Regions from separate parts of the Homo sapiens genome. Here region 1 is linked to region 2. The links come from fine-mapping of genetic effects on gene expression. Tissue or cell type: regulatory T cells. Region 2 holds a variant in brackets; the other region holds the start of a gene. All regions are shown on one strand. Distances are between the middles of the regions.

Evidence for each region. PIP is the estimated chance that this variant, and not a neighbour inherited with it, causes the effect.
Region 1: ARHGAP21 starts here. The variant in region 2 is fine-mapped to the expression of ARHGAP21 in regulatory T cells (Bossini-Castillo 2019, PIP 0.95).

What each region holds. Positions count from the first base shown.
Region 1 is chr10:24,722,566-24,725,321 of GRCh38, forward strand. It overlaps ARHGAP21 (Rho GTPase activating protein 21), which reads right to left and starts at 1,322. Exons shown (of 26, transcript NM_020824.4): 1 at 997-1,322. RefSeq lists silencers at 102-411, 472-831, 852-931, 1,022-1,091, 1,122-1,311 and 1 more and an enhancer at 855-1,765.
Region 2 is chr10:24,608,884-24,611,639 of GRCh38, forward strand. All of the region lies in intron 9 of ARHGAP21 (Rho GTPase activating protein 21), which reads right to left. Among named protein-coding and RNA genes, the nearest start is that of ARHGAP21, 110 kb to the right of the region's middle. The variant CA/C (reference allele first, on the strand shown) is at 1,489.

The DNA of each region.
Region 1 (2,756 bases), 110 kb after region 2:
GGGCTGTGCATGTTGTTTTCTGCATCACCCAGACAGGGACACTTCGGTGAAGTTTTCTCCCCCACGAGGCTGAAATGGGATCACACTTTCCAAGCCCCCTCTTCGCTCCCCTCCGCCCCCCAAAAACGCAAGCACAAAGCCAGCCTGGCTGGGGCCGGCGTGGGCTCGGCGGCGTCTCCGGGTGACTCGGGCGCCGCCCCTCCGCCCCTCCGCCCCGGCCGGCGTCCCCGAGGAGGCGGCTGTTTTCCTTGGCCCGCGGCGGGGCTGGGTGGGGACGGCCGGGGAGGCGTGCGCGGCCGCGGGTGGGACGCCGGCGCCGCTCCCGCTCCAGGGCATGATTCTGGAGCTACACCCGAGCAACTCTGAAGTCGCGGCTTTTCCCCCAACTACCACTCGACACGGCTTCCCTTCCCCTGTGGCCACCTAGGGGGAAAAAACGAGAAAAAGCAAACCACCACCCACCTCCCCACGATTCCCCCGCCCCTTCCTGAGGCGGGTCGGGGACCTCGAGCTCCCGAGGAGAGCGGCCCCAATATGGACTTTCTCAAAGGTGCTAGGAGCCCCGGGGCGAGACAAAACCGGGGGCCTTACCCTTCCCGCCCGCTCGGGCCCGGCGGCCGAAGCGCGGCGGCGAGCTGAAGCGGAGACGCTGGCCGGGCGCCGGGCCCGGCCGGGACGCGCTAGGCCGCAGGCTCGGTTAATATTCATGAGCGGCCCCAGGCGCCCCTCCTCCAAGGCTGGCCGGCCGGACCCCAGCGCCCACCGCCGGCCTTTGTGCCCTTCCCTCCGCCCCGCCGCCCGCCCTTGCTCCGCACACGCGGGCGCGGCCCCTCCGCCCCCGCCGGGCGCCCGCCGCGGGCTCCCTCCGGCCCCGAGCCAGCGCCCGGCCGGGTGGCCTGTGGCGGGAAGGGAGAGAGCCCGCGGCAAGCCGGGCACTCCACGGCCCGCGAGCGCAGCGCCCTCTCGGCTGAGACGGAAAAGAAACCAGACACGCACCAGAGGAAGCGGGACGAGTGGATCCGCACGGGGCTGGCCGGCTCCGGGACAGCGCGCCCCGCCCGCCCGCCCGGCGTGAGCCGGACCCCGCAGCCGGACGATCCCGCGCTGCCCGCCGCCGCCGCCGCCGCCGCCGCCGCGCTCCGAGGCCGCCGCCCCCGGCCGGCCGCTCCCAGGCACCGCCGCGACCTGCCCCGGCCGGCCCCGGGCTCTCGGCCGCCGCAGGAGGGCGTGGGGCGGGGCGGCGGCCGCCGGACTCTCCCCTCGCCTCGCCGGGCCGGGCCGGGGCCCAGCTCCGGCGCCCGCGAACGCCAAGTGACAGAAGCGCCTCGCTCCGTGGCCGCGCGGAGCTGTTTCCCGGGGGCGGATTTCTCGCTTCTTCCTCCCTGGATCCACCTCCTCCCACTCCACCTCCTTCCCCTCCCCTCCCCAGGGGAGGCTCTGGGGCTGAATATTTTCTGTCTTGAATAACACGGGACCGGGGAACCGACGCTGGAGAAGGGGGATTAGCCGGAGGCCGGAGCGGGGTGCTCGCCTGCCCCCTCCCCGTGGGTCGCGGGACCTACAAGCCCTCGCCCCCCAGCACCCCAAAACCAGGCACACAACGCTCCCCGCCCCTGCAGTCTCCCAAGCGCTGAACGGCAGCGTCCAGGGATGGGCTTGCTCCCGGGAAAGGAGACCTGGTGGTAGACGTCTGGGGTGGAGAGGGGGACAAGCCTATAACAGCGACATCTGCAGACTCCAGGGATCAAAGGTCCTAGATTGGGGGACAGGGCTTGGCAAATTGTGCCCCCACCCCTTTTTTGCAGCGGGAAGGCAATGAAGCTGCGACGAGACGTGGGACTTCCAGATAAGGGAGTGTCCCCTCACGCCTCACAGCAAAAATCTCTTCCTGTGGTGGGAAGGGGGAAGTTAGCCAAGCGTTGCTCATTCAGTTCTTTCCCTTTTATAAATTCTGCAGAGCGGCTGAGCGAATTTGGCGCGGCTAGCGGAACTGTGGAGAGGCGGCTGCGCTTCTCTGTCCGCCACACTCCAGGTCACAGCGGCTCCGGAGCCGCGGCACAACCGCCACCCTCCCCACCCAATTCCCGGGCCTTGTCACAGACCCCGGCAGCTCGCTCCGCCCCGCCGTGCCTCACAACATCTCCCGCTGCAAATTACCCAATCGGGAGACGCGACGAGAGAACGCGAACCAATCAGGGGCTGGTAAATCAGGCTTCCCTCCGCCCTCTTCCCCGCCCCCGGGTGAAGGCCACCGCCCCCTCGGCCTCTCCTTCCCACCCCGCCCCGCTCCGGGGAGGTGGCTCCCCGGCTCCGAGCCTCGCGGGGCTGGAGGGGGAGTTGCTCGCAGTCAGAGGCAGCGTTTGTCACCTTGTCACCCTCATCCTCGCCCCCTCCCATACACACTCCCCTCCCCTTCTCGGTGCTCCTGCTGGTGCTGTTGAGGGTCATTTTTATCCTCACTGCGGCCGGGGACTGCCAGCTATTGTGTCTGATCAGCTGCCACCGCTGTCCAGAGGGAAAAAAAGAAGAACAAAACCTAGAAACTGTGGAGTCCTCTTACCTTTTCCTTCTTTCTTTCTACACTCTCCCCTGTAGACTTAGAAACATCCCTTCTCCTTCCCCGCCCGCCCACCACCTGAGGTCCTGTTTCTTTATGGGGGACAGGGGAGCGGGGACAAAAAACACTCCCTGCAGCTGGAGTACCTGCGCCTTAGTTTTTACATCTTCCTTAAAGTGGAAGGTGCCAAACCAAATCT
Region 2 (2,756 bases):
CAGTAATTCTTTTTCCAAAAGCAAGAAGATAACTGAAGTTTTAAAAATTCAATGAGGATAACAATTTAATTTCACTAAAACTTGTAGTATTTAAAACTGATTTTGATATTTAAATTGCACATGTTTAACAAAGTTTCTTCAAATGATACATCATATAAAGCAGCCTGGTTTTATAGAGTCTGCTGATCCATAATTCTGTTACAGATTAATGAATACTGATGTGAAGAGGAATACACTGTATTCTTCAAAAAGTATCTGACTCATGCAGTATGAATACATCTTTAATTATACTGGGATAAATCTTTGAGGAGAATGATTTTATGCCTTGCAAAACTAAAGAGAGTGAAATTCAAATTGTGCATGGATTAAGCATTATTGCAAAGCATTAAATACAATTTTCAAATTTTGTGTCCCTGGATTTCCTGATGGTATTCATTCAATCTCTTCCAACTTACTATATTTTGGAGAACATTTCTGAAACACACTGGATTAAAATAATCAGTTTTAGATATGTCTGCAAAAACAGGTGGGAGGATAGATACTCACCTGTTCTAAAGGAGGACTGAATGGAGAAGGCGTGGGAGAAGAGACTAACATTGGGCTTACTCATTTCAGTATTGTTGCATTCTTTATAATAAATTCCTTTTACTGGTATGTTAAAAGGAGAAAAGGAAAAGCTAAACATACTTTTAAAGTAAACACAATTACATTACCTCACATTTACAGACTATACTAATCCAATTCTTGATTCCCTTTGAAAATATAAAGACTTTTCTACCGGTTTAAAAATACTGTGTTCGTTAGGAATAATCCAAATTCAAAAACTCTACTTTTCACATACACTTTAATTATTACCAATGTGCATATTATGTAAAAACAAGAATAATTCCAATTTATCTTATTTTCCAATGTAGAAAAATACATATTATTTAGTTGACCAAACGGAAAACAAAAATTTTTCATCTCATATACAAATATATTCAAAAGCATCATGCTGTCACACTTTCAAATGACTTCTAAATTTTTAAATAAAATATTCTGTTAGATGAAAATCAATCATCTTTATCCTAGGCATATCACATACTACATTAAGACATTAAATAATGCATTCAAAACATACTTATGAACTACTGGGGTTACAGATTTATTAAGTGGCATAAACATTCGTGTTAAACTACGTAATCAAAGAACTGACTTAAGAAACGAGGTCTTGGACAGGCGTGGTGCCCACGCCTGTGATCTCAGCACTTTGGGAGGCCAAGACGGGTGGATCACCTGAGGTCAGGAGTTCGAGACCAGCCTGGCCAACATGGCAAAACCCTGTCTCTACCAAAAATACAAAAATTAGCTGGGCATGGTGGTGCGCGCCTGTAGTCCCAGCTACTCGGGAAGCTGAGGCAGGAGAATCGCTTGAACCCGGGAGGCGGAGCTGCAGTAAGCTGAGATCATGCCACTGCACTCCAGCCTGGACAACAGAGGACTCTGTCA[CA/C]AAAAAAAAAAAAAAAAGTCTTCATTTACTTTCTTCACTAAAAGACCCAGAGCTCTTTATAATAAAAAGAACGGTGAAGGACACCTAAGTTGCTACACATCAAAATTCAATGTGGCTACTGTTCCTTAACATGTAAAAAAAAATACAGGCCTATATATCCAAAAATTTTGCTTTGGAAAACAATGTTTTCCAAAAGTAAATAATCCTCACAGATAAAATCTACTCCATTATTCAATTTGGATTTTTTCCAAATGGAGAGTATTTCAAATTATGTTTCTATTTATTATTCGTATCTGAATAGGAAACTTTCACTGTTTATTGCTTATCAATTAATATTTTAGAAAAACATCTTAAAGATTTCATATTGTGAAAATTCATACATGTTACATAATAATTTCTCAGATATCAAAGCATGAAAGAAGGGAAGCCCTCCTATATGAAGAGTTCTTATAAGTAAGGACCACTAAAATCACAGTGGAAAGAGCGAAACACATGAAAAGACAACTCATGGAAGAAATACAAAAGCCAAATAAAAATGTAAAAAATACTGGTAAAAACCTATTACTGAAATGATCAAATAAAAGCAAGATGAAACAGTGATTTATAACTGTTTTTTCATCTCATAAACTGACAAGTATTTTCACTTTAAGATGTTCTCATCCTATTTGTTCCTCTTCGTGTTCCGCAAGATAACTACAGAGAGTGTCTATGCTTGTCTATCCCAGAGGTTCAGTGGGATTCACAGGAGCGGCTGGCCCTCCTGTGGGCGGGCATGATCTAGGCCTGACCAACCATAGGGCCTATCCCTCTCAATCCACAGAGACTGGCCAAGGGGCGAGAACCACGCAGTCAGGGCCCCTTATATTAATAGTATCTCTAGGATTCAATACATGGACAGTGAGAAAACTATGGACTTTCTCTTCTTATCCTTGGAGAACAAAAACTGTAGAAATCAGTAAACTGTTGAGTTGTCACCAACGGCCACCTTTTCTACTATGTGGAGAAAAAGAATCTGAGAATGAAGAAAGCAAAACGAAAAAAGACTCACAGGCCAGGCGCGGTGGCTCATGCCTGTAATCCTAGCAGTTTGGGAGGCCAAGGTGGGATGATCACTTGAAGTCAGGAGTTCGAGACCAGCCTGGCCAACATGGTGAAGCTCCATCTCTACTAAAAATACAAAAATTAGCTGGGCATGGTGGCACACACTGGTAATCCCAGCTACTCAGGAGGTTGAGGCAGGAGAATCGCTTGAACCTGGGAGGTGGAG